4 linked regions of the Homo sapiens genome follow. The protein of the gene in region 3 purifies or fractionates together with the protein of the main gene of each other region. This does not show direct contact. Each region holds a gene or a part of one and is shown on either strand. Other genes may lie near its edges. The genes, in order: MCMBP, GOLIM4, DCAF12 and MOV10.

Evidence for each region.
Region 1: the proteins of DCAF12 (region 3) and MCMBP purify together in Homo sapiens (affinity purification with mass spectrometry; 2 studies listed by BioGRID and IntAct, with this or other methods). This does not show direct contact.
Region 2: the proteins of DCAF12 (region 3) and GOLIM4 purify together in Homo sapiens (affinity purification with mass spectrometry; 2 studies listed by BioGRID and IntAct, with this or other methods). This does not show direct contact.
Region 4: the proteins of DCAF12 (region 3) and MOV10 purify together in Homo sapiens (co-immunoprecipitation; 3 studies listed by BioGRID and IntAct, with this or other methods). This does not show direct contact.

What each region holds. Positions count from the first base shown.
Region 1 is NC_000010.11:119,828,938-119,834,867, forward strand, and holds the end of MCMBP (mini-chromosome maintenance complex-binding protein), read right to left. Parts: intron 3,164-5,930; coding exon 3,075-3,163; intron 2,664-3,074; coding exon 2,537-2,663; 3' UTR 503-2,536; downstream 1-502. UniProt on the Homo sapiens protein: Associated component of the MCM complex that acts as a regulator of DNA replication.
Region 2 is NC_000003.12:168,008,925-168,015,950, reverse strand, and holds part of GOLIM4 (Golgi integral membrane protein 4), read left to right. Parts: intron 1-5,127; coding exon 5,128-5,208; intron 5,209-5,532; coding exon 5,533-5,682; 3' UTR 5,683-7,026. UniProt on the Homo sapiens protein: Plays a role in endosome to Golgi protein trafficking; mediates protein transport along the late endosome-bypass pathway from the early endosome to the Golgi.
Region 3 is NC_000009.12:34,123,680-34,131,311, forward strand, and holds the start of DCAF12 (DDB1- and CUL4-associated factor 12), read right to left. Parts: upstream 3,020-7,632; 5' UTR 2,753-3,019; coding exon 2,675-2,752; intron 1,599-2,674; coding exon 1,344-1,598; intron 1-1,343. UniProt on the Homo sapiens protein: Substrate-recognition component of a DCX (DDB1-CUL4-X-box) E3 ubiquitin-protein ligase complex of the DesCEND (destruction via C-end degrons) pathway, which recognizes a C-degron located at the extreme C terminus of target proteins, leading to their ubiquitination and degradation.
Region 4 is NC_000001.11:112,691,656-112,698,681, reverse strand, and holds part of MOV10 (helicase MOV-10), read right to left. Parts: intron 7,018-7,026; coding exon 6,883-7,017; intron 5,922-6,882; coding exon 5,753-5,921; intron 4,665-5,752; coding exon 4,510-4,664; intron 4,230-4,509; coding exon 4,053-4,229; intron 3,934-4,052; coding exon 3,786-3,933; intron 3,267-3,785; coding exon 3,108-3,266; intron 2,535-3,107; coding exon 2,431-2,534; intron 2,246-2,430; coding exon 2,148-2,245; intron 2,053-2,147; coding exon 1,836-2,052; intron 689-1,835; coding exon 571-688; intron 396-570; coding exon 204-395; intron 45-203; coding exon of another isoform or gene 9-44; exon of another isoform or gene 1-8.

The sequences.
Region 1 (5,930 bases), on a different chromosome or scaffold from region 3:
AGTAAGAAAGTTGTATGGCATATTCCAACAAGTATTGGTTCGTCTGGTGTCTTTAGAGCTTTACTCTGTTGAAGTGACTGATTCTCAACTGAACATTATGTCGTTACTTTGATAAGCATTCCACTTTTGTTATTTATTAGTGCTATCTTTTTTTTTTACGTGTTAAATCTTGTGATTATTAAAATAAAGTACCATTGTAATTTAAAGTGACAAATGGGTATGAGAATTCCTTGCATAACAGATTAAAGAATTTGTAAACGGCAGATTTGCTATAACTGAACACTTGGTCTAGCTGTTGCCAGTATGTTACTCCTTTGAAATATACTCATGATGTAAAAAGGGAAATGGATCAGAAACTATACTTTAAATCCAAACATTCAAAACTGAATGCTTGCTTCTACCAACTTTTCTTCCGGGTCCTGAAAATATTAAGGGTTCCCAACATGGGAGAAAATACAACCCAACATTAGGTGATAAAATACACGTTTAAACTCTACAGAAATTAGTTCGAAAGAGATCTTTGAAAAATCATTTTAAGAAGGCAAAGTTCCAAACAGGGTTACACAGGAGTCTACTCAGTTTCCTGGCCATACAGGATTAACGCTGTGCCTTACGTTAGAGCAACAAACTTGACTGTCCGTGTATATATAGGTGAGGGACAAAGGGTTTCTGCAGCCAAGCACTGCACTCCATTCCGCTGCCTGGGCGGGCCTTGAGCAGGAAGGTCCCTCTTGCACCACCTCCTCCACTTCAGTTCAGCTCTCTCATGTCTTCCACCAAGAGGACATGGTCTTTTTCCACACAGATCACATGGGATGGTGAATCTTCTTACTCATGAAAAACAGCCCAAGGTACTGCTAATTTGGGACGTTTTATTTATTGGAAAGGTTCTTTCAAGGGAACTTTTCTGCAAGACCAAGCAATGTATGTATTTTTCTTTGGTAAATTACAATTTACATTGGCACAAAAAACACATGGTGACTAATGTACTTTGCTCTAGGACAATTAAAGAAAATGTATTTTATCCTCACAAATCCAGTGAAGCCTTCATTTTATTTCTAAAAGTTTAAGGAAGGTCTAGTCTACCAGTTATAAAAATGAAAACCAGTTCAACTCTAATATAAACATTATTTACATTTGTTTATAAAAATAGATTTGAGTTTAGGAAAAGTTGAACAACTAGTTATTTTTACTTCAGTTATTAGGTACAATGAATTCCTTGATTTTTCAAGGCTGACCCTGTTTCCTTGGTTAACAATTTCAATTTAGGCCTTATAGGAAAAAACGTAAGGGATCCTTTATCTGCCTCCAACTAGGTAAGTTATTTGATACCACTGACAGCTTAAAAAGTAATGTCCTAACCTTTCTGAAGATTCTGGTTGCCATAACCATGCTACTACAGTCTGTTGTTAGTTTGCTCTATTAAAACTAATTGGTCTGGAGAAAACCTACCTGCAGTTGTACGAGGCTGTTACTGGAGTAGCAGATGTTAGCTGATCTAACATACTTGGAACCAACTGATGATCCCATAAAAAATGCCAAAAATCCAATAGAATCAAAGCAACTCAATGACATTTAAGAAAATAAAAACTTTCTAAAGGGGGTATTGCTTTTTAAGTTTCCTATTTTGTTTTCATATTTGGGCACAGCTTTGTAGCACAGCATTCCCTTATGCATGGTTCTCAAATGCACTGGGATAGGAGAAAATAAAGACAATGTAGTGTCTTGGTTTCTTTTGCCCCCAAAAGCCACATTCATTCCGTTTAAAGGACTCCTCTTATTCAGAGATAGATTGTCCTTTCCTTTTATGAAAAAAATGGTGATAATACAGTGATTTATTCGGATTACTTGGCAAGGTAAATTGGCAACCTTATAGTACCCCAGATTTTTGGAAATATTACTACCGGTCCATAAAATACAAAAGTCTGGGAACCACTGCCATGTACAAGTTTAGTTTTGCAGGCTGTTAACAAATGTTAAGTGGGAAAAAGTTTCTGTGGCCAAACATCTGGGAAATGACAGTACAGAATTTCATGTAGTCATGTGAATCAATGGCAAGTACGCCTCCGTTCCCCAAAGATGGACTACTGAATGCACCCCAACCCACTGTGAACTGGAAAAACAGAGAACTAGAAAACATAAGAAATCCGAAGCACGATTCCTCTGACTTTGAAACTGCAACAACCTTCTTCATTTCAGCATTTCAACAGTCTGGCCTATGACTCAGCTGAAGCTAAGGAAATGGTACAATCAGCAACATTATCAATATTAAACTTTTAATATCAAATACTTTTTTTACATCATTACTAATTTATATAATTATTATAAAACAAACTTCAAAAGCTCCATGAAATCAGTAAGGTAAAAGTCCTTACTGAATATCATATAAACATCAGGTGTTACCAGGCTTGATTTCAGGAAATGTCACTGGTTTGTGATAGAAATTACCTATAAAACAATGTGGTATAAATGAATATCTGAATTTTACAATTATGTGGCTACAGTTTGCCCATTACTCTTCATAGGTATTACATCTTTAAAGTTCATTTCCATTCACACATTTTTGCTGCTGAAGCCTCGTTCTTCTTAAAGACTCTAGCTGCTTTGCTCTCAGCCATCGTTCTCTTGACAGCGTTGTCTGACCAGCACTGAGAGACAGACACCTGGTTTGAAACACAGAAACAAATTTAAGTCTAGAGCTGGGATAGTAAGTTTTAAATTTTTTTTAAGACCTAGGAATACTTTGTGAAAACACAGAGCACGTTAGGAGACAAGACCGTATGGTAGTTACACACAAGTCAACAGCCAAGTTAGGCTTCTAAAAAGAAATCGTTGAAGAGTCAGAATTGGAAAGTGGCTCACTCTTTGAAGCTTAGAGAACAAGCAGCATGCCTGTTCCACTGAAGAGATCACCAGCCAAACTCGATTCCCCCTCAATGAGCCCTTTCATACAGCGTTTTTAAAAGGAAAAGTTCATTTCCGTTTTTAGAATTCTGCCTCAGTTACTGCTGAATAACTCAGAAGACATATACACAAGCTTACCGAAACAGCAATAATGGACGTGCGCCACTTACCGAGCCACCACGAGCAGCTGGTGAAGATCATCAGCAGTGATGCTCTGAGGGTCGTTCTTCCGCATTTCCACAAAGTCATCTTCAACTGCCTTTATCAAAAGAGTAAATGTAAATGATGTGCATTTTTGTAAGGAAAAGAAAATTAACATGGTTCCTTGACTGATGTAGTAAGGTGCATGTCAGCCTCTTAGACAAAGGAGGCAATATGGGTGAAAGTACCAAAGCATATACATACATAATGCTGCTGATGAAAATAAAATAATGAAACTCAGATTCATTTAAGGTCAAGCAAACATATAAATCAGCAACTGGCATAGGAAACAATGCTTTTCCACAAAGGAAGAGTGATGTTAGTGAAAATGGCAGAGAAGGGACCGCAGAAAACTGTCTCTACTGTTAACACTGATCAAAATCAGCTTTTTAAAAACTAGAAATAAAACCATACTTGCAGCAATCCAGAGAGCATTTATGCAAGAAAACCAGGTGATTATTGGTAAGAATGTTGAGCCTGGCAGCATTTTAACATGTCCTACTCCTAAATTCCAACCCCTTCCCCTCCAGGCGATAATTAGTAGCTTCAAAAATCAACAGCCTGGCAGCCACCGGAGAGAGAACAGGGCTAGGGCTCCTTCCAAGTGCCATTCCCGGAGAACTGTCATCTGACCACCTGTCTGGTGGCTCCCTGGAAGGACCCATTTGCAAGGTTGTCTTTATTTAACCTGACTGGAAGCCTGTCTACTATGAACCACCTCTTTCCCCAGGGCATTTATCAAAAACAATCGGAAGAAATTACCAATCACCTTAGCTACCTGAGACACTGGGTAACAGCTGCGGCAGACAGACTAACCCAAACCCTTCAATGGAAAAGCTAGCTGGGAAATGACATGTCTGTAGAGGGCTCTGAAAACCTTAAGTATGTAACTCCTAGGAACTCAGAAGGCTGCAGACATGCTCAGAGACCATAGCTCCCACCTCTGCATGACCTGGAGGCTCTGTGCGAGCAGGAAATGAAGGCTAAGGCTTGTAAATTGCATGGCTAAGTGTTGAACTGAGGGCTTGCCCCAACTTTTATTTTTATTTATGATTATTATTCACCCGTAGACTGGGAGACTACTACCCAGCATTTAAGGAAATTTCTTTCCAATCATTAACCACAAAACTAACAGAGCAGAGACTTCAGTGCCCACATGTGACAAAGATACAGACTTTATAGAATTAGTCAAAAAAGTTACTAAACAACCTACCAACAGTAACAAACAGCAACAACAATAAACCCTAGGGAGGTTTAATTTCCAGAGTAACTTCCAAAGCAGAGTTGCCATATTATATAATTTAAAATGTCTGGTTGTGGCTAGATGTGGTGGCTTACACCTGTAATCCCAACACATTGGGAGGCCAAGGTGGGAGGACTACTTGAAGCCAGGAGTTGACCAGCCTAGGCAATAAAGCAAGACCTCATCACTACAAAAAAAAAAAGAAAGAAAAAAAAAGAAAAGAAAAAACAAAAAAACAAAACTTTAGTTGGGCATGGTGGTGCACACCTATGGTCCCAGCTACTGAGGCAAGAGGATCACTTGAGCCCAGCAGTTTAAGGCTGCAGTGAGCTGTGGCTGTGCTACTTACTATTCCAGCCTGGGTGATACAGTGAGACCCCACTGACCAAATAAAATGTCTGGTTTTCAACAAAAAAGTACAAAGAAACCAGAAGGTATGGCTCACACTTTGGGGATAAGGGAGTCAGTAGAAAACTGTCCCAGAGGAAACTCAAACATTAGACAAAAAGACTCTAAATTGGCTATTTTAAACATTCAAAGAAATAAAGGAAACCACATAAAAAGAACTTCAGGAAAATATGAGAATCACCAAATAGAGAGTATCAATAAAAAGAGAGAAATAATTTTTTAGAAGAAGGAAATAAAAATTCTGGAGTTGAAAAATATAGTAAAAATTCTCTAGAGGTGCTCAGATTTGATCAGGCAGAAGAAAATCACTAAATTTGAAGATAAGTTCACTGAGATTAGTCTAAGAAACAGAACAAAAAAAGAAGAATGAGGGAAAATGAACAGAGCCTTGAAGACCTGTGGGATACCATTAAATGCAACATCAGATACACAGTGGTAGTGTCAGAAGGAGAGCAGAGAGAAATGAGGCAGAAAGAAACATGGCCAAAACCTTCCCAAACTTGTTGAAAACTTCCCCAAAATATGAATTATTCTGCACCTCCAAGAAGCTCAACAAACTCCATGTAGGATAAACTCAGAGATCCACACATAGACACATCATAATCGAAACTGTCAAAAGCCACAAAATCTTGAAAGCAGTGACAGAAAAATGACTCAGTGTGTACAAAGGATCCTTATCAGAAACTAGTTGGCTTCTCAGTAGAAACCAGAGGCCAGAAAGTGGTGGGAGGACATATTCGAAATGATGAGACAAAGACTATAAACCAAGAATTCTACATCCAGCAAAACTAGCCTTAAGGAGAAATTAAGACATTCCCAGATAAACAAAAACTTAAAAGAGGGCTGGGCGAGGTAGCTCACACCTCTAATTCCAGAATTTCGGGAGGCTAAGGAGAGAGGATCACTTGAACCCAGGAGTTCGAGACTAGCCTGGGCAACATAAAGAGATCCCCTATCTGCACACACACAAACACACACACACACCCAAACAAAACAAAAAAACCCAAAAAACAAAGAATTAGCTGGGCACAGTGGCACATGCCTGTGGTCCCAACTACTCAGGAGGCTGAAGTGGGAGGATCGCTTGAACCTGGGGGGGTTGAGGCTGCAGTGAGCCATGATCACAACACTGCACTCTAGCCTGGATGACACAGCGAGACCCTGTCTCAAAAAA
Region 2 (7,026 bases), on a different chromosome or scaffold from region 3:
GGTTTTCTTCCAGGGTTTTTATGGTTTTAGGTCTAACGTTTAAGTCTTTAATCCATCTTGACTTGATTTTTGTATAAGGTGTAAGGAAGTGATCCAGTTTCAGCTTTCTACATATGGCTAGCCAGTTTTCCCAGCACCATTTATTAAATAGGGAATCCTTTCCCCATTGCTTGTTTTTCTCAGGTTTGTCAAAGATCAGATAGTTGTAGATATGCGACGTTATTTCTGAGGGCTCTGTTCTGTTCCATTGATCTATATCTCTCTTTTGGTACCAGTACCATGCTGTTTTGGTTACTGTAGCCTTGTAGTATAGTTTGAAGTCAGGTAGTGTGATGCCTCCGGCTTTGTTCTTTTGGCTTAGGATTGACTTGGCGATGCGGGCTCTTTTTTGGTTCCATATGAACTTTAAAGTAGTTTTTTCCAATTCTGTGAAGAAAGGCATTGGTAGCTTGATGGGGATGGCATTGAATCTATAAATTACCTTGGGCAGTATGGCCATTTTCATGATATTGATTCTTCCTACCCATGAGCATGGAATGTTCTTCCATTTGTTTGTATCCTCTTTTATTTTCTTGAGCAGTGGTTTGTAGTTCTCCTTGAAGAGGTCCTTCACATCCCTTGTAAGTTGGATTCCTGGGTATTTTATTCTCTTTGAAGCAATTGTGAATGGGAGTTCACTCATGATTTGGCTCTCTGTTTGTCTGTTGCTGGTGTGTAAGAATGCTTGTGATTTTTGTACATTGATTTTGTATCCTGAGACTTTGCTGAAGTTGCTTATCAGCTTAAGGAGATTTTGGGCTGAGACAGTGGGGTTTTCTAGATATACAATCATGTCGTCTGCAAACAGGGACAATTTGACTTCCTCTTTTCCTAATTGAATAGCCTTTATTTCCTTCTCCTGCCTAATTGCCCTGGCCAGAACTTCCAACACTATGTTGAATAGGAGTGGTGAGAGAGGGCATCCCTGTCTTGTGCCAGTTTTCAGAGGGAATGCTTCCAGTTTTTGCCCATTCAGTATGATATTGGCTGTGGGTTTGTCATAGATAGCTCTTATTATTTTGAAATACGTCCCATCAATACCTAATTTATTGAGAGTTTTTAGTATGAAGGGTTGTTGAATTTTGTCAAAGGCTTTTTCTGCATCTATTGAGATAATCATGTGGTTTTTGTCTTTGGCTCTGTTTATATGCTGGATTACATTTATTGATTTGCGTATATTGAACCAGCCTTGCATCCCAGGGATGAAGCCCACTTGATCATGGTGGATAAGCTTTTTGATGTGCTGCTGTATTCGTTTTGCCAGTATTTTATTGAGGATTTTTGCATCAATGTTCATCAAGGATATTGGTCTAAAATTCTTTTTTTTTGTTGTGTCTCTGCCTGGCTTTGTATCAGAATGATGCTGGCCTCATAAAATGAGTTAGGGAGGATTCCCTCTTTTTCTATTGATTGGAATAGTTTCAGAAGGAATGGTACCAGTTCCTCCTTGTACCTCTGGTAGAATTCGGCTGTGAATCCATCTGGTCCTGGACTCTTTTTGGTTGGTAAGCTATTGATTATTGCCACAATTTCAGCTCCTGTTATTGGTCTATTCAGAGATTCAACTTCTTCCTGGTTTAGTCTTGGGAGAGTGTATGTGTCGAGGAATTTATCCATTTCTTCTAGATTTTCTAGTATATTTGTGTAGAGGTGTTTGTAGTATTCTCTGATGGTAGTTTGTATTTCTGTGGGATCGGTGGTGATATCCCCTTTATCATTTTTTATTGCATCTATTAGATTCTTCTCTCTTTTTTTCTTTATTAGTCTTGCTAGCGGTCTATCAATTTTGTTGATCCTTTCAAAAAACCAGCTCCTGGATTCATTAATTTTTTGAAGGGTTTTTTGTGTCTCTTTTTCCTTCAGTTCTGCTCTGATTTTAGTTATTTCTTGCCTTCTGCTAGCTTTTGAATGTGTTTGCTCTTGCTTTTCTAGTTCTTTTAATTGTGATGTTAGGGTGTCAATTTTGGATCTTTCCTGCTTTCTCTTGTGGGCATTCAGTGCTATAAATTTCCCTCTACACACTGCTTTGAATGCGTCCCAGAGATTCTGGTATGTTGTGTCTTTGTTCTCGTTGGTTTGAAAGAACATCTTTATTTCTGCCTTCATTTCGTTATGTACCCAGTAGTCATTCAGGAGCAGGTTGTTCAGTTTCCATGTAGTTGAGCGGTTTTGAGTGAGATTCTTAATCCTGAGTTCTAGTTTGATTGCACTGTGGTCTGAGAGAAGTTTGTTATAATTTCTGTTCTTTTACATTTGCTGAGGAGAGCTTTACTTCCCAGTATGTGGTCAATTTTGGAATAGGTGTGGTGTGGTGCTGAAAAAAATGTATATTCTGTTGATTTGGGGTGGAGAGTTCTGTAGATGTCTATTAGGTTCGCTTGGTGCAGAGCTGAGTTCAATTCCTGGGTATCCTTGTTGACTTTCTGTCTCGTTGATCTGTCTAATGTTGACAGTGGGGTGTTAAAGTCTCCCATTATTAATGCGTGGGAGTCTAAGTCTCTTTGTAGGTCACTCAGGATTTGCTTTATGAATCTTGGTGCTCCTGTATTGGGTGCATATATATTTAGGATAGTTAGCTCTTCTTGTTGAATTGATCCCTTGACCATTATGTAATGGCCTTCTTTGTCTCTTTTGATCTTTGTTGGTTTAAAGTCTGTTTTATCAGAGACTCGGATTGCAACCCCTGCCTTTTTTTGTTTTCCATTTGCTTGGTAGATCTTCCTCCATCCTTTTATTTTGAGCCTATGTGTGTCTCTGCACGTGAGATGGGTTTCCTGAATACAGCACACTGATGGGTCTTGACTCTTCATCCAATTTGCCAGTCTGTGTCTTTTAATTGGAGCATTTAGTCCATTTACATTTAAAGTTAATATTGTTATGTGTGAATTTCATCCTGTCATTATGATGTTAGCTGGTTATTTTGCTCGTTAGTTGATGCAGTTTCTTCCTAGTCTTGATGGTCTTTACAATTTGGCATGATTTTGCAGTGGCTGGTTCCGGTTGTTCCTTTCCATGTTTAGCGCTTCCTTTAGGAGCTCTTGTAGGGCAGGCCTGGTGGTGACAAAATCTCTCAGCATTTGCTTGTCTGTAAAGGATTTTATTTCTCCTTCGCTTATGAAGCTTAGTTTGGCTGGATATGAAATTCTGGGTTGAAAATTTTTGTCTTTAAGAATGTTGAATATTGGCCCCCACTCTCTTCTGGCTTGTAGAGTTTCTGCCGAGAGATCCGCTGTTAGTCTGATGGGCTTCCCTTTGAGGGTAACCCGACCTTTCTCTCTGGCTGCCCTTAACATTTTTTCCTTCATTTCAACTTTGGTGAATCTGACAATTATGTGTCTTGGAGTTGGTCTTCTCGAGGAGTATCTTTGTGGCGTTCTCTGTATTTCCTGAATCTGAACGTTGGCCTGCCTTGCTAGATTGGGGAAGTTCTCCTGGATAATATCCTGCAGAGTGTTTTCCAACTTGGTTCCATTCTCCCCATCACTTTCAGGTACACCATTCAGACGTAGATTTGGTCTTTTCACATAGTCCCATATTTGTTGGAGGCTTTGCTCATTTCTTTTTATTCTTTTTTCTCTAAACTTCTCTTCTCGCTTCATTTCATTCATTTCATCTTCCATCGCTGATACCCTTTCTTACAGTTGATTGCATCGGCTCCTGAGGCTTCTGCATTCTTCATGTAGTTCTCGAGCCTTGGTTTTCAGCTCCATCAGCTCCTTTAAGCACTTCTCTGTATTGGTTATTCTAGTTATACATTCTTCTAAATTTTTTTCAAAGTTTTCAACTTCTTTGCCTTTGGTTTGAATGTCCTCCCGTAGCTCAGAGTAATTTGATCGTCTGAAGCCTTCTCTCAGCTCGTCAATGTCATTCTCCATCCAGCTTTGTTCTGTTGCTGGTGAGGAACTGTGTTCCTTTGGAGGAGGAGAGGCGCTTTGCTTTTTAGTTTCCAATTTTTCTGTTCTGTTTTTTCCCCATCTTTGTGGTTTTATCTGCTTTTGGTCTTTGATGATGGTGATGTACAGATGGGTTTTTGGTGTGGATGTCCTTTCTGTTTGTTAGTTTTCCTTCTAACAGACAGGACCCTCAGCTGCAGGTCTGTTGGAATACCCTGCCTTGTGAGGTGTCAGTGTGCTCCTGCTGGGGGGTGCCTCCCAGTTAGGCTGCTCAGGGGTAAGGGGTCAGGGACCCACTTGAGGAGGCAGTCTGCCCGTTCTCAGATCTCCAGCTGCGTGCTGGGAGAACCACTGCTCTCTTCCAAGCTGTCAGACAGGGACATTTAAGTCTGCAGAGGTTACTGCTGTCTTTTTGTTTGTCTGTGCCCTGCCCCCAGAGGTGGAGCCTACAGAGGCAGGCAGGCCTCCTTGAGCTGTGGTGGGCTCCGCCCAGTTGGAGCTTCCCCACTGCTTTGTTTACCTAATCAAGCCTGGGCAATGGCGGGCGCCCCTCCCCCAGCCTTGCTGCCGCCTTGCAGTTTGATCTCAGACTGCTGTGCTGGCAATCAGCGAGATTCTGTGGGCGTAGGACCCTCCAAGCCAGGTGCGGGATATAATCTCGTGGTGCGCCGTTTTTTAATCCCGTCGGAAAAGCGCAGTATTTGGGTGGGAGTGACGCGATTTTCCAGGTGCCGTCCGTCACCCCTTTCTTTGACTCGGAAAGGGAACTCCCCGACCCTTTGAGCTTCCCAAGTGAGACAATGCCTCGCCCTGCTTTGGCTCGCGCATGGTGCGCGCACCCACTGACCTGCACCCACTGTCTGGCACTCCCTAGTGAGAGGAACCTGGTACCTCAGATGGAAATGCAGAAATCACTGTCTTCTGCGTCGCTCACACTGGGAGCTGTAGACCGGAGCTGTTCCTATTCGGCCATCTTGGCTCCTCCCTTATACATTTCTTCACACCTAGTAGATAAATCCTTGACATATTTTTTCAATTGTATATTTACTTTAATTTTGCTTCTGCTATTTTGAGTGAACTTTTTGGAAATCAAAATATATTATTGCAAGTCTTTAAATGATAACAGTGTCAAAATATATTATCGCAAGTGCTTGAAAGACAAAAGTGTTTAAATGATATCTGTGGTTTGTTTTAGGTTCAGGAAGATTTGACTGAAGAGAAAAAAAGGGAACTGGAGCATAATGCTGAAGAGACCTATGGTGAAAATGATGAAAATGTATGACCGGGATACATATTTCTATTGAGCACTTGAGTGTTTGTGGGTGTGCATGTGTATAGGAGAGATATATGTATTTGGGATACGTACCAGTGGGTAATGGTACCTCTGAGTTACCACTGAATTTAACAGGCCCACCTGAAATTAGGAAAAGTTGTGACAACATGAAAAGTAGGAGAGACAGCAGCACTGTTGCTTACATATCATTTTTCTTCCTTTTTTTTCCTCCAAAAATGAGTAATTTTTCATCCTGTTTTTAGAGAGAATTATTTATCACTAACTCTATACTATCTCTTAGTTTTTCTTTTTTCTTTTAATTTTAAGACTGATGATAAAAATAATGATGGAGAAGAGCAAGAAGTTCGAGATGACAACCGCCCCAAAGGCCGAGAGGAACACTACGAGGAGGAAGAAGAGGAGGAAGAAGACGGGGCTGCAGTTGCTGAGAAATCACATCGAAGAGCTGAAATGTAGCGGCACCCAATTTCTAGACAACGCTCAGCCAACGGATTCTTTTCAAGCTGCTCAAACATAAATCTGCCTACTGAACTCTAGGATATTTAATTACAAAAATTAAGAACTTAGACTTTTTTAAAACTTTTGTATTAGAAATGCGCATACATTTATATGAATATATTTTGATAACGTAGGTCTAGAGCTTCTTTTATATTCAAGCTAAACATGAAAAAGAAGAAAAACAATAAAGTAAACCTGAGCCCCCACGTCCCAATTTTTTTAATAGATTATGTGATGTTGGAAAGCTCATTGATTTTGTATATGTTTCAGCGTGTTACCTTTCTGGCTTCCAGTTCCCAGGTGTTCTTTGTTTGCCTTTGATAAAATACAGGATTTAAGAACAGAGAGTACTGCAAAATGCCATGCAGACTTTAAAGAGAATGGCCTGTTTACTAATTGCTGCCCTTCTGATGTCTTTATGTATAGCTCTGATAGAATTTTCACCAGTCTATGTATCTCTGGAGTGAGATCTATGTACAAAGTGACATACAATTGGAAATCCATTTTTGTTGTAAAGACATTGTTTTTCAGACTTTTCAGATCAATTAGAAAAATGTCATTGCTTTAAAATCATAGCTGTTCTGTTTAAGAGGAATTGAATTTAAAAATGAGAGAGTATTAAAACTCATGTGGCAGTATCCTGGTCTTAATCAGGTATTGCAGTGTTCAAACAAGGTATGGACACATCAACATATTCACCTTTTGGAAGGACTAGTGACTTGGTTAAAAACTAATGAGTGTTTGCGTGTGGTGTTTCTATGCGAGCACCCATTCTCAATTTTTTTTTTTTTTTTTTGTTTGAAGCCATTGATTGATATTCTTGTTTCAGTGTCTGGTTCCCTATAAGTAATATATATTTCCTCTTTAAGCTCTGTGCCTCAATATGCAATCACTTTGATAATAAGTATAAATATGAAGACATACCAAACTGCAAATAGGATTATTTTTCAAAACTATATGGTGAAACATATGGTGATATGATAGACTTATGGTTTTTCTGTTTGCTGGGATTGGGTCTGCTTTTTGCCTATGTGTAAGGCATTTTAATCATTGTGAATATAATAGATTCCTTAAAATAAGAAAATTAAAAATCAGAAACTTCCCTTGGAGTAGAGACATTTCAGTTGCAAGCATAAAGATTTTTAAATATATAACACTAGGTTATATAATTCATATATGTGTGGTTTTGTATTAATAATCAAATTAATAAAAACATTTCATTTTCTACCATTGTATGAACGTAATTTTATTTTTTAATAACCACACTCATAGATGGTTTTGATTGTTCCAGTTGAGTGATTG
Region 3 (7,632 bases):
AATTCAACAAGCAAGAGGCTATGATGATTAATTCAGTTTACAATTCAGTAATATTTGCTAGGCTAAACACTATGATGCACGTGCGGGGAGTGGAATGAACTCTTCCAAGCAGGAGACTCTTTTTCTACTCCAAGTGACAAGGATGACAGTTCTTAACCACGAGTGGGCAGCTGGAGAGACCAAGAAAAGGAAGTTCTGTGGAGGCCCGTTGCCACCACTTAGTTTTGAAAGGCTTCTGGGTAAGACAAGCGACTCCTCAACAGAAGAGGAAACGAAAGGTTGGCCCCAACCACCATGGTATTATTTCCTTCCTCAAAACTGTTTAAATTTTTGCCTATGTCCTTTATAAACAGACCAACCACCATGGTATTATTTCCTTCCTTAAAACTGTTTAAATTTTTGCCTATGTCCTTTATAAACAGACACTTCTCCTAGTACTTAAGACTTTCTTGATCTAGAGCAATCTTCTCTCTTTTAATGATCCAAAATGTGTTTCATTCCAGGGTCAATTTACTCACACATTATGACATTACTTGTCCATTCACACAGGGGAGGTGAAAACCGAGGGAGGGCTGGGCGTAATCATTTCCCACCCCTAGGCCCTAGGCCCTGCCTCTTTTCATTTGCCAGTCTTGTGACATCATGCTATTCGTGGACTCTATTCCAAACGTTTCTGCTCTTTGACTTATTTTATCCTGGCCTATAATTGGGTTGGTTACAAAGCTTACTGAGAAATTTTTCACTTCATTCATTTATAACTGTCTTTCTATTCACTCTTAAAAAGGCTACTTTCCAAAGAGCTAATGCTTATACCCTGAAATATACTACCAGACACACATTCCCTGCCTTCCTTATAGGAAACAGTTCATGTATTTCTCATATTTCAGTTTATACATTTTTAGATTCTGTTCACTAAAAAACAGCCAAGTGTGCTATTTTAAATACTTCGACATACGTTCTTAGGCTGTTTTCACTATTATGTATCCTGAATGATGCTCTAAGCATCATTATTTCTTAAATCTTTCCTTTGAGGCCTATGACTTAAAAACCAGCATAAAAATATGAGGCAAAAACAAACAAACAAACAAACAACCCTCTAGAAGCAGCACATCCAGAGAGGGCCTGAAGAAATACACTCCTTTGAGGACTTATCAGAAAAGAAATGTATGAGTGAAAAAAGGAACACGAAAAGAGGAAGAAGTCACCAACGGGAAAGAATGGAAAGGAGAGTAAGGCAAGTCCCTCCTAAAAGAAACAGACGGGAAAACTAGCAGAGGTTCTAGAGCAAGTGGAGCAATATATCCACGACCTAGGAGAGAGGTCACATCCCCCCAGGCACTTACCGTGTTGCATTTTGTGCCACACACCACTTGCCTATGATTCAACCACTGAGATGCAAACACTTTATTAAGGGTCCCAAGGTGAAACTCTCTCTCCTTCAGGAGACTGGGAAGTTGCTGTGCTGCATAACCATGCAACACTCGAGAGTAGCTGGTTTCATTCTGTAGCCTGACTTCCCGGTTCTTCAAGTAGTATACTAAGGATCTCTTCACAGGAGGAAGTCTTTTCCTTTTGTGAAGCGAGTGATCCCAGCCAAACTGTGGAAACAACATTAGAAATCAGGGCTTTGGCTACTCTTCTTCAGAACAGATCCTACTGTATTACAGAAATCACCAACTCATAACTCATACTGCAGAATTTACAAACAACACAAATACAAACACAAGAGAACAAGAATCTCAATCCAGAAAGTCGTTTAACTCTTCCAACATTAAAAAGATGTTGCTCACAGTCAAACTTACCAATGTGAATTACAAGGGCTGAAAGTCAAGGGAATGAATGCAGAATAGAACAGACTAAAAGGTTTACTAGACATTTTAGGAGTGAAAGATTGAAGGAAATGAGAGGTAGAGTGATTCCCATACCGACATGGGCTGCATCTCTACCCAGCCCCCTTCTCCCTCTCAGTCTGTACTCCCACTGGAGCACGGAAGATACAGTCCAAGGAGCCAGACCTGGCTCCCAGGTCTTCCAGGGATGCATCATCAATGACCGTTCCTCTGTCATCATGCCCGCGCTCCAGGCAGTTGCAGAATTCGAAAAATCAACCGCCAACGGGGTAGTAGGCCCCCGGGAAATCAGAGGCCATATCTATGTCCAAGAAGGCCTTCCCCTCCAAAGGGGGCGGCATAGAGATGATACCTGGGAACTGTTGTTTCTTTTGGGGTCCAAACGCCGAAAGGCCCAGCTCAGGGTTGGGTATACATATAGGGAGACTACTTCCTTCTTCCAGGAGGGACGCAATCATCCCAGCTTCCTAGGGCCCATGGAAGGTAGAGTTCACTCTACCAGAGTTTGTTTCCGATTCCCTTAACTTCGGTTTCCCCTTCCTCCAAAGCCAAGATTCTGGTTTCTTTTCAAGCCCTATCCACGAATGCAGGCCTCCCGCGGATTATGTCCCATTCCTGAGTTCCCCTTTGGCTCCTCACCGCCCTGGCCTATCTGCCCTCCAGTTAACGAGGGTCCAGTCCTGACCCTATAGGCCCTGAACCCATTCCTGTTTTGCCTCTGACTGCAGACCCTGGACCCCGATTCCCGTCGCAGGATCTGCGGACCCTAAGCCCATCTTGGTTCCTCAGCCTCACCACCCAGGTGCCGGCCTCTCAACCCTCACCTGCGGGCCCTGAGCGTCGCTCCCAGCTCCCGGCGAGGCGGGCGCTTTCCGCTTCCTGCTAACTACTTTCCGGGCCATAGTGGGCAGCGCCGCCGCGGCCCCGCAGCCACATGGGGCGGGGGAAGCGAAGGATAGCAGGACGGCGGGTCATATACTGGGCCCCGGGGCCGCGCACCTTAGTGCGCCCGGCCCGGAAAATGGCCCGGACCCGGAGCGGCAGCAGAAAAAAGATAGGCGGAAAGAAAGGAAAGAGAGAGGAAGGACTTGAGCCGGGAAAGGGAAGGGGAAGCGAGAATGAGCGGCTTTCCGACGGCAGAGCCTGCAAGGACGGCGAGCGGCTAGAACCAAAACACCCCCTCCCCCTTGCTCGCGCGCCGTCACCCTTGCGCAGCCGCACTTCGGATAGCGTCGCCACGGAAACACCGCCGGAACGAGATGGGCGGGATCTAGGGGTTGGAAGATAGTTCTCTGGTGTTTCCCGGCCGCCGCCAGGCCATTTTCAACGGTTGTTTGGCTACTGCTGGATGGAAGTGGACGAGCTGGGGCCAAGGGAATCTGGCTTCTGGCCGCCGACCTCCGACCCCAGCCCGCCTATCCGCAGGCACCCGGAAGTGAGGACCACCAGTGCTGCTGGGGGAAGGAATCCTCCCTAGTGCAGGCCTTAACCCGGTTACCTCCCATCTGGCACCAAACGTTTCCCTGAATCTGTCACAAACCGTGCCCTGGCTCCAAGGGCTGGACAGGGGGGTGGGGGGGTGGGGGGCAGGAACCGCTCCCACCCTCGAGGTGAAGTCCAGTCAGGAAGTCAGGGCAGTGTGGCCAGACTTTCCCACCACTGAGAACCTGCCCAGCACAACCAACCCAGGCCGCCCTACGAGTCTCTGGCTACCCTCTTCCCACCGCTGGGTAGCCCTGAGGCTCCATTCTCCGCTCTGTCTCCTCCTGATCCTTTCTCCTGTCCGAAATGCTTCAGCCCCTCAGTCAGTTTCAGCTCCTCAGTCACCTTCCCCTTACGGTGCAACTTCACCATTCCCTTTAGATTTCCATGACCTGCCATCTAAACCACATGGTCTTTTGTGCTTTATGAAGTAGTCATCACGCTGTAAACTTATCTGTAGCTGCCTGCCTCACTCTTGGATTCAGGTTGCGTCTCCATTAGGGCAGGTCGGGAATTCTGAACTACAGGAAAGAGAGTGGTCATTTTTGGCTTGCCAGTCCAGTTAGAGCTGGCATTGGCCTCCAAACAAGGGGGCTTCATCAGGATCACCCTTGCCAACATTTTTGGAAGATCCTGAAGGAATATGACTGCCAGCCTTCGCTTTCCTCAAGCAAACAAACCCTCTGAGGAAGCAGGATGCTCTTGCTTGGGGCTGATTGGCCTCAGGCTGTGGTGCCCAGTTACCTGCTGGTCACTTCAGGCTTCAGGCCTCAGGCCTCATACCTCCAAGGAGCTCTGTTGGACCATCTCAAGTTCTGTCAACAAGGAGATTTGGATTTGTTTTCCAAGCCGAATCAAAGACCAGATTGAAGCAGGGTCTCCTGCCATCCCAAGTCGGCACTACCACTAACCCCTAATGTCTTGCGAAAGGCAGCTCCATCTTATTTGGTCAGGCCTGTCCCTTTAGAGATATGCACATAGTGAGTGGGTCAGGAGTGGGTCAGCTTTCTTTTTTGAGTCTGTTCTAATTCTGTCTTGCCCCGCAATGCTCTGGATGACCCAAGAGCCCCTGGGCAAGAGTCTGGAATCCTTTGAGAATCTCTAGGCTCAGATTGGGCTGTCAGTGCCAAGAGGGGCACACTGGGCACTGCTGCAGTCTCTTTCTCAAAGTTCCTTTACTTCATCTTCACAACCTAGGAACCATCCCCAAATGTACCTTATAGCAGAGCTCGCGATTTCTTTTCTTTTTTTTTTTTTGAGATGGAGTCTCACTCTGTAGCCTAGGCTGGAGTGCAGTGGCACGATCTCGGCTCACTGCAACCTCTGCCTCCTGGGTTCAAGTGATTCTCCTACCTCAGCCTCCTGAGTAGCTCAGATTACAGGTGCTCGCCACGTTGCCCAGCTAATTTTTTTTTTTCTTTTTTGAGACGGAGTCTCGCTCTGTCGCCCAGGATGGAGTGCAGTGGTGCGATCTCGGCTCACTGCAGGCTCCGCCTCCTGGGTTCACGCCATTCTCCTGGCTCAGCTTCCCGAATAGCTGAGACTACAGGCGCCCGCCACCACGCCTGGCTAATTTTTTGTATTTTTAGTAGAGACGGGGTTTCACCATGTTAGCCAGGATGGTTGCCCACTAATTTTTGTATTTTTAGTAGAGACGGGGTTTCACCATGTTAGCCAGGATGGTTGCCCACTAATTTTTGTATTTTCAGTAGAGATGGGGTTTCGCCATGTTGGCCAGGCTGGTCTCAAAATCCTGACCTCAGGTGATCCGCCCACTTCGGCCTCCCAAAGTGCTAGGATTACAGGCATGAGCCACCACGGCTGGCCAAGAGCTCACCATTTCTATTCAAATAACAGAATGAAAGTCCATTTTGGAAATTTAATTGACAATTGCCTTTAAAAGACTGCAGGCCAGGTGCGGTGGCTCACGCCTGTAATCCCAGCACACTGGGAGGCCGAGTTGGGCCAATCACCTGAGGTCAGGAGTTCGAGACCAGCCTCCTGAGTAGCTGGGTTGCAGTGAGCTGAGATCATGCCACTGGACTCCAGCCAGGGTGACAGAGCAAGACCCTGTGTAAAAAATAAAATAATAAAATAATAATGATAACAATAATAAAGTAGTAGAGTGGCTGGGGGAAAAAGTACTCAGGGCATGTAACTACTCCAAGAATGGCATTCTTAGTGAGCCTCACTGCTGAAACTGCGTGCTATAATCTGAAAGCAGTTTTATCTAATAGCTGTTAAAACAACCTACTGTGACTCTCAGAAATAGTTTTACTTATTGCCTTCACTTACCAATCAAAACTTGCCAGCTCTCCAAAACCTTACTAGTGCCAGTGAACTTTCTTGAAGAGCAATACATAACACTTCCTTTTTACAAAACTTCCAACCTTCTCTTTGTTCTGCAGACATGGCAAAGACCACCCAGTCTGCGTGTGCCCTGAATTACAATTCCTGCTTCACAAAACATTTTAATTTTAGAGATTCATCTATATATTTTATTTCACCTTGACAAAACTGTGTGAATGAATTTTATAATATTGCATAAAAGATATCAGGCCAGGCGTGGTGGCTTACACCTGTAATCCCATCACTTTGGGATGCCAAGGCGGGTGGATCACCTTAGGTCAGGAGTTTGAGACCAGCCTGGCCAACATGGTGAAACCCCCTCTCTACTAAAAATACACAAATTAGCTGGGCATGGTGGTGCCCGCCAGTAGTCCCAGCTACTCAGGAGGCTGAGGCAGGAGAATCGCTTGAACCCAGGAGACCAAGGCTTCAGTAAGCCGAGATCGAGCCACTGCACTCCAGCCTGGGCAACAGAATGAGTTTCCGTTTCAAAAAAAGAAAAGAAAAGAAAAAAAAATCAAACACACTGCTGGGCACGGGGCTCACCCCTGTAATCCTAGCACTTTGGGAGGCTGAGGCAGGTAGATTGCTTGAACTCAGGAGTTTGAGACCAGCATGGGCAACATGGGAAAATCCTGTCTCTATAGAAACATACAAAAATTAGCTGGGTGGGGTGGCATGTACCTGTAGTCCCAGCTACTTGGGAGTTGGCAGGCTGAGGTGGGAGGATAGCTTGAGCCCAGAAGGTGGAGGTTGCAGGTGGAGAGCCAATATCATGCCACTGCACTCCAGCCTGGGAGATCCAGACCTGTCTCCAAAAAAGTCAAACACAAAGCAGTAATTCCTTTTTTTATTTTTATTTTTTGAGGGACAAGTTCTCGCTTTGTTGCCCAGGCTGGAGTGCAGTGGCATGGCATGCATGTGCCACCACACCCAGCTTATTTTTTATCTTTTGTAGAGACAGGGTCTCGCCTGGTTGCCCAGGCTGGTCTTAAACTCCTGGGCTTAAGCGATCCTCCCACCTTGGCCTCCCAAAGTGCTGGTATTACAGGTATGAGACACTGAGGCCAACCAAAGCAGTAATTCCTAAATGTAATTAGTAAATGCCTAATTTCATGTTTTTGAAGTATGAAAACAGGCACAACTGATCCATGGTAAGAGAAATCAGTCATTACCCTTAAGCGGGATTACTAACTGGCAGGGGACCTCAGGGAGCCTTCTGAGGTTCTGGAAATTTCTTTTTTTTCTTTTTGAGACAGAGTCTCATTCTCCCACCCAGGCTGGGGTGCAGTGGCACGATCTCAGCTCACTGCAACCTCTGCCTTCCGGGTTCAAGCAATTCTCCTGCCTCAGCCTCCCAAGTAGCTGGGACTACAGGCCTGCGCCACCACACCTGGCTAATTTTTGTATTTTTGGTAGAGATAGGGTTTCACCGTGTTGGCCAGGCTGGTCTCAAACTCCTGACCTCAGGTCATCCACCCACCTCGGCTTCCCAAAGTGCTGGGGTTACAGGCATCAGCCACCATGCCTAGCCTGGAAATTTCTTTCATTTTTCTTTTCTTTTCTTTTTTTTTTTTTTTTTTTTTTGTGAGACAGTCTCGCTTCATTGCCCAGGCTGGGTGCAATGGTGCAATCTCAGCTCACTGCAACCTCTGCCTCCTGAGTTCAAGCGATTCTCCTGCCTGAGCCTCCTGAGTAGCTGGGATTACAGGTGCCCACCACCTCGCCTGGCTAATGTTTTTGTATTTTTAGTAGAGATGGGGTTTCTCCATGTTGGTCAGGATGGTCTCGAACTCCCGACCTCAGGTGATCCGCCTGCCTCGGCCTCCCAAAGTGCTAGGATTACAGGCGTGAGCCACCACTCCTGGCCCTAATTTTTGTATTTTCAGTAGAGGCAGGGTTTCCCCATGTTTGCCAGGCTTGTCTAGAACTCCTGACCTCAAGTGATCTG
Region 4 (7,026 bases), on a different chromosome or scaffold from region 3:
CCATTAACCTAATGCAAGAGGGAGCCTGGCAGGAGGCCAGGGAGCTGGGGAACAAAGGGAGGCGGCAGCTGACCTTGGTGCTCTTCTGAGATACGGAGCCAGCAGAGGCCTAAGCTCCTGGAGCCTCTGCCTAGTGGTCTGGATATTAAGGAGGTACCATCTGGGGGAGGGGCCCCACCCTTGCTGGTAACTGAGGACCTGACCTGTTTCCGGTACGGGGAGATGACGCCCACACTTCGAGGGCTCAGGCGAGCTTTGCCCTTCTTGGAGGAGGGGGCCAGGAGCAGCTTCAGGTAGGAAGTCACTGTGGCAGCCTCTTCAGGGTTGAAGAAGGATGGGCTGTTGCCTTCACGCTCATCTTTGCCCATTACGCCGTGAAAGATGATGGGAAAGCCCTGGACATGGGGTCGGGGGAAACCGTCAGCCAGACCACCCTCCCTCTATTCCCTCCCTTCCCAAACCCTTCCAGAGAGTAAGAGATCCTAGGCCAAGGTGACAAAGGGAGGGGCTGCACCTTCAGTGGGAGGGAAGTCAGGGTACAGGGGTGGGGCCTGCCCTGCTCAGCCTCACCTGTCGAGGTAGGCCCGCCCAGCGGCAGAAGCGTTCTCGATCCACGACATCAGCACAGGCCTGCAGCTCCCCTTCATAATAGAGCTGGTTAGGAATGTCCAGGATGGTGGGATGAGACCTGGGAGGCCGGAGGAGGAAAAGCAAGACCAAGGGTCAGATTCCCTCTGCCCTACAGGGGCTCCGCTCTACCCACTCTGGGCCCACACACAATAGCCTGCTACCCCGCTGGCTCCCTGGATAGCAGGACACTCCTCCATAATATCTGCTGCCAGGCACTGTAAACCACAGAAAGCAGAACCAAATATAGTTCCAGAGAGCATCTAGTCCAGGGACTCCACAGACCCATGACATTTAAAACTAAATAATTAGGGGCCCATTTTCAGGTTTCAAATTTACCAAGGACAGTACGAAACCAAATTCTCCTTGACTATCACGTTATTTGATGAGACCATGTGTTAAATCAAAAAATATAAGCAGTGATGACACAATAACTAACATTTATTGAGCTCTTAGTGACAGCATAAAACTTATCTAAGCATTTTAGATGGCTGAACTCATTCACTAAAAGTATACAGCTCTTTAATTTGAATAACAATAGGTTTATGAAAAAACTGTATCTTCCCTATTTTTCTTTCTTTTTTTGAGATGGAGTCTCGCTCTGTCACCCAGGCTAGACTGCAGTAGCGCGATCTCAGCTCACTGCAACCTCTGCCTCCCGGGTACAAGCGATTATCCTGCCTCAGCCTCCCAAGTAACTGGAATTACAGGTGCCTGTCACTATGCCTGGCTAATTTTTGTATTTTTAGTAGAGATGGGGTTTCACCATGTTGGACAGGCTGGTCTCAAACTCCTGACCTCAAGTGATCGGGGGTGGGAGCCTGACCTACCTTGGCCTCCCAAAGTGCTGGGATTACAGCCATGAGCCACTGTGCCCGACCTCCTCCCTATTTTTCTTATCTCTCCTTGGATTGCCTGAAAACTTCATCTGGGACTGGTACCAGACACACCCTAGCCTCTAGGAACCACTGACCACCCCCTAAGATGCAGATAAGCTGACTGGTGTAGTGTGAAACCACTGGCTAAGTCACGCAGACAACAAGCAGCAGTGCTGGGGCTAGAAAAACCTCCTGCCTTCCAGTTTAGTCTTTCTGCATCACACAACCTCTGAGCAACAGGACTGACAGCAAGCCAGACTCTCCAGTGGGGTCTGCATGCAGGATGTGAAAGCATAGGATATGGCAGGGGAGGCAAGGGCATGGGAATACCTGTAGTTGCGGAGCAGCTTGGTTATGAACTGGGGGTCATAGCCATCAGGGCCCTTCTTGTACAGGGAGTTGTAGGTGAGCAGCCGCTCCAGCAGTGAGTATCCCAGTCCATGCTTCTGGGTCAGTGGGGAACGCAGCACAGGCCCCAGCTGCCGAGGGTCTCCTGCCAGCACCAGCTGCCCTCCTGGATCACCTGTTTCCTTTACTTCCATCAGCCCTGGGAAGCAGAAGAGGTGTGGGAAGAAAGGTAAGTGGTGCAACCTCTCTGACCCACACAGGGTGTATACCTGCAGCCCCACCTGAGTCCCTCACCTGCTATAGCTACCAGACTCTCAGGCTCCATGCAGTGGCCAGCCTCATCGATGAAGATGTGTGTGAAGTGATCAATGGGAAACTGGGCCGAGACCAACCTGGGAGGTGTCAGGCCAGGCAGGGGTCATATCCAGGCACCCAACTACCAAACCTGAATGCTTTCCCAGGCTGGCTTCTCAGCACCCACCACCCCACTCCGGAAACCATTCTTCCCCATTTCCCCAGCCCGGTACCCCTTTAATTACACTTACGATTCAGAGACACACCCACACACACTCCCCACCTGCCGGCAGTGATGAGGGTGGTAATTAAGACCCGGTATTCCTGCAGCTTCTTCTTGGCGGGAAATACATACTCCCCCTTCTTTGCGTCCCAGTTGCAGCAGGGCTGTGGATTGTGAAGGGACCAGAGGAATCAGCTTGGCTCCACTCATTCCCACCGTGATTCTGGCTGTGGGTACCCCCCCTCAAACAATTATTTTTATTTTTTTTAATTGAGACGGAGTCTCGCTGTCCCCCAGGCTGGAGTGCCATGGTGTGATCTTGGCCCACTGCAACCTCCGCCGCCTGGGTTCAAGCAATTCTCGTGCCTCAGCCTCCCGAGTAGCTGGGGCTACAGGCACGCGCCACCATACTCAGCTGATTTTTTTGTATTTTTAGTAGAGACGGGATTTTGCCATGTTGGCCAGGCTGGTCTCAAACTCCAGACCTCAGGTAATCCATCTGCCTCGCCCCTCAAAGTGTTGGGATTACAAGTGTAAGCCACTGCACCCAGCCCCCCAAATGTTTTATCCACCCCCCTCACTTACAGACAAACTGAGGCCCAGGGAGGGGTCCTGTCCAACCCAAGGTCACATAGCAAGTATCAGAATCCAGGTCTCCTAGCTTCCTCGCCTCAGTGTCTGCCCTGAGAGCCTCCCCGGCATTTGCCATTCTTTGGCCCTCTGCACTTCCCTAGTACCTTGATGTCCTCAGGTACCATGCGGATGTCCCTGCTGGGGGCCAGGAGGCGGTAGATGGAGCTAGGAAGGTGGACCCGGAGCCTTTGACAGAGTAGGTCAGCCCCTGAGTTGGATGGAGCGCAGGCCAAGATGTGGGCTTTGGGCAAGTGCTTCACCACCTGAGATGCAGATAAGCGCAGTGTGGGAGGCAGGTTCCTGAGACTCAGCCGTACCCAGGCTGGGGCAGGGCAAGTCTATGATGACTGAAATGTGAATGGTGACTCCAAGATTCATGCAGTGCCCTACCCGTACAACAGTGCTCCACAGCCACATTTACCCTAACTTCCCACTTCCCCAATCCCCACCCTTTTTTTTGAGACAGAGTCTCACTCTGTCACCCAGGATGGAGTGCAGTGGCACAATCGCACTGCAGCCTCAAGTGCCCAGCTATTTTTCATATTTTTCATAGAGATAGGGTCTTGCAATATTGTCCAGGCTGGTCTTGAACTCCTTGGGCTAGTCTTCCCCAAGTGCTGAGATTACAGGCATGAGCCACTGCACCCGGCCCCTACCTCTCTTTCTGATGGCTGCTTAGAAGCAGGAGCATTTCGGGAGTGGGAAGGAACTAGAATCTGGGGACAACTGCTTGGTGCTGGGGGAATCAGAGTGCAGGCCCCAGGTTTGTGCTCAGACCCCACCTGCTTAATTGCCTCCACTAACGTGACAGTCTTGCCGGTGCCTGGAGGCCCAAAGATGATGTAGGGGGCTGGACGGGTGGTGCCCGTAACAATGTGCCTCATGGCCTGCAGCTGCTCTGGGTTTGACTCCAGACTCCGGTCGTACAGCCTGGCAGAGGGACCAGGAATGTGAACTTGAAGTCATCCAGTGACCCAGAGGCCTCCCTGACTCCACCCCCTGTGCCCACACTCCAAGTGGCTCCAGAAGCTCCCTGCCCACAGTCTCACTTGAGTTTCACATCTGAGGGCAGCAGCGGGACGTCCCGAGGTGCCACAGGAAAGAGCATGGGCCACAGCAGCCAGCGCCCTGTCAGCTCCAGGGCACGGTGCTGGACTCGCAGCGGCTGGCGGTTGAAGGTAAAGTTCACCTTGAAGGTCAGCCCATCCACAAAGCGGCTCAGGAGGCTTTGGGCAGAGAGAGGTGGTAAGAGTTTGTTGGGGCAGGGGAGGTGGGCAATAAAGGGCCAGAACTTTCTCCACCAACCAGTGTCCCAACCCCTCTTTCCAAGACCTCTATGCAAGTTCTCTAGAAGAGGAAGCTGCCGTAGCATCTCAGGGTACCCCTGAGGAAAAGTCTCCTGCTCTGCCCCGGGGTCTCATTTATCTCAGGGAGAAACACTCCTCCTCCCCTGGGGTCAGAAGTCTGTAGACCCTTCCAGCAGCTCAGGGTTCCCCCAACACCCACCTCATGGAAAAGCTCAGCTTGACACGGTCCAATTCCACCTTGTGCACAAAGCCCTTATATGTGATGGGGTCCTCCTGGTGTGTCTCCGAGGACAAAAGGGCAAACAGGTGGTCGCCCCGTAGCACTGAGGGGCGGCTCTCAGTCACTCCAGGAACCTATGGGGTGTGAACACAAGCAAGCTTCTGTCCCAGGGATGGACGCTGGAGGGCCCAGCCCCCAGGTTCCCCAGACCTTTAAGGGACAAGGACTGAGACTGGCCTTCTAACCTAAGACTCAGGGAGTTATGCTATCCCTGCACCCCTCTTTCCTTTCATACCAGCAGGAGTCAGGGGAAGAGGAAGAAGACAAATCCTCCGAAGCTGCCCAGAGATGCCGAGCCCAGGAACCCGGAGCCTCCAGTGCAGCTGCCCTCTTGGCCAGCTCAGTTCCTGCTCTGCCTATAAAAATCCTGTTCATCAGTTAATCGGGTTGCTAAAAAAATAATTAAAAAAAAAAAAAAAAAAAAACGGACCAGGCATGGTGGCTCACGCCTGTAATCCCAGCACTTTGGGAGACTGAGGCAGGCGGATCACTTGAGTCCAGGTGTTGCGAGACCAGCCTGGCCAATGTGGCAAAACCCCATCTCTACAAAAAATACAAAAATTAGCCAGGCGTAGTGGGGCATGTCTGTGGTCCCAGCTACTTGGGAGGATCACTTGAGCCCGGGCGGCGGGGATTAAAGCGAGCCAAGATCATGCCATTGCACTCCAGCCTGAGCACCAGGGTGAGACCCTGTCTCAAAACAAAAACAACAACAACAAAAAACTTGTTCAAAACTCACTTCCTGCAGTAATCTTTCCTTGAACAAACTCACCCTCTAATTCCCACCTGCAATTGTGTGTAGAAATCCATTCTCGTGTGTAATTTTGGGCTTATATGCACACATTGAAAATCCAAGAGCCAGAAAGAGCTCTAAGAATTATCCAGTCCAGCTCTGTGCTTTTCAGATAAGGGAACTAAGGCTTAGAGAAAGCCAGGGACTTACCCAAGGTGGTAGCAAAGCCTGGACTAGAACCCAGATCTTCCCCATTTCCCTGCTCCAACACATCTTTGGGCACAGGATGCCCACCCTGCTTCTTGCGGAGCCCTGGGAACCACTTCAACTTTCCTCTTGTTCTGCCCTGCTGTCAGGAATAGTTCTGCCCACAGCCTCTAGCTTGGCTGGCTTGAGCCCACCCTCCTCACACTCAATCTGAGCCCTGACCTCCAGCGTGAGCAGCCTGGGGTTCTGGTCCACAGGGTCCCAGGTCATGGGCACCGACTCCAGGTCATAGTGCCGGATATCATGCTCCATCTGCAGTTCCTCCAGGTGCAGCAGCAGCCGCAGCTTCACCTCATAGTTCCTCCACTTCAGGGCTGTCTCCAGCTGGGCCCTGGAAATGATGGTTGGGAGGGGTGAGTGGGGGCAGGAACAGGATGGGCCAGACAACCCCTATGCCCAGGAGTATCCACCTTCTCCCACCTGAAGCTCTGGAACTAGCGTCAAAAAGCAGAGAAGACTAGAGGGATACAGAAGTGGATGAGAGTCAGAGGCCCTGAAGAAGGAAGCCTTGGCTCCTGCTTCCTTGGATGCCCCTGCCCCCACCTCACCCGACTTGCATTTGCATGGTGGCTCTTATGGCCAGAACATTCTCCTCCAATCCTCTCATGACTCCCACCCTCACCTCATTCAAATGTCCTTCTCTGTTCAAACATCACTACCTCAAACAGGCCAGGACTAACTGGCCTTCTGCAAAGCAGCACCAACCCATTCCCTAACCCTGCTTTAGTTTCAGTATAGTTCTGTTCATCTTTTTTAGAGACAAGATCTTGCTCTGTCACCCATGCTGGAGTGCAGTGGCATGATCTGGGCTCACTCACTGTGTCCTCAACCTCCTGGGCTCAAGAAATTCTCCCACCTCTGCCTCACAAGTAGCTGGGACTACAGACATGTGCCACCACACTTGGCTAATTAAAATTTTTTTTTGTAGAGACAGAATCTCACTATGTTGCCCCAGGCTGGTCTTGAACTCTTGGGCTTAAATGATCCACCTGCCTCGGCCTCCCAAAGTGCTGAGATTACAGGCATGAGCCACTTACACCTGACCTGTTTAGTTCTTCACAGCACTCATCACTCCATGAAATTGTAACAAAAATGCTCATTGTCCCCCATTAAAATGAGCCAGGCCTTCATTTGACTGGTTCACCTTGAATGGTGCTTGGTGTATGGTGCGTGCTCAGTAAGGGAATGAATGAATACAGCCTGGGAGGCTGAGGACGGAGGTGCCAGGGCAATGCAAAGAAGCCAGTAGGTAAAAGACGGGAGAGTGCGGGGTGCAGAGGGATGGTACTTACTTGATCTCTGCGATCTCCTTAGGGGCAGTGAAGATACTTGTTCCCTGAAGAAGCATGGGGAGCAGCTGCCTGAGGCGGGGAGGTGGGTAGTATGTCCCCAGCGCCATACTTAACTCCAGGTCATAGCCCTTAGCGCTGCAGAAT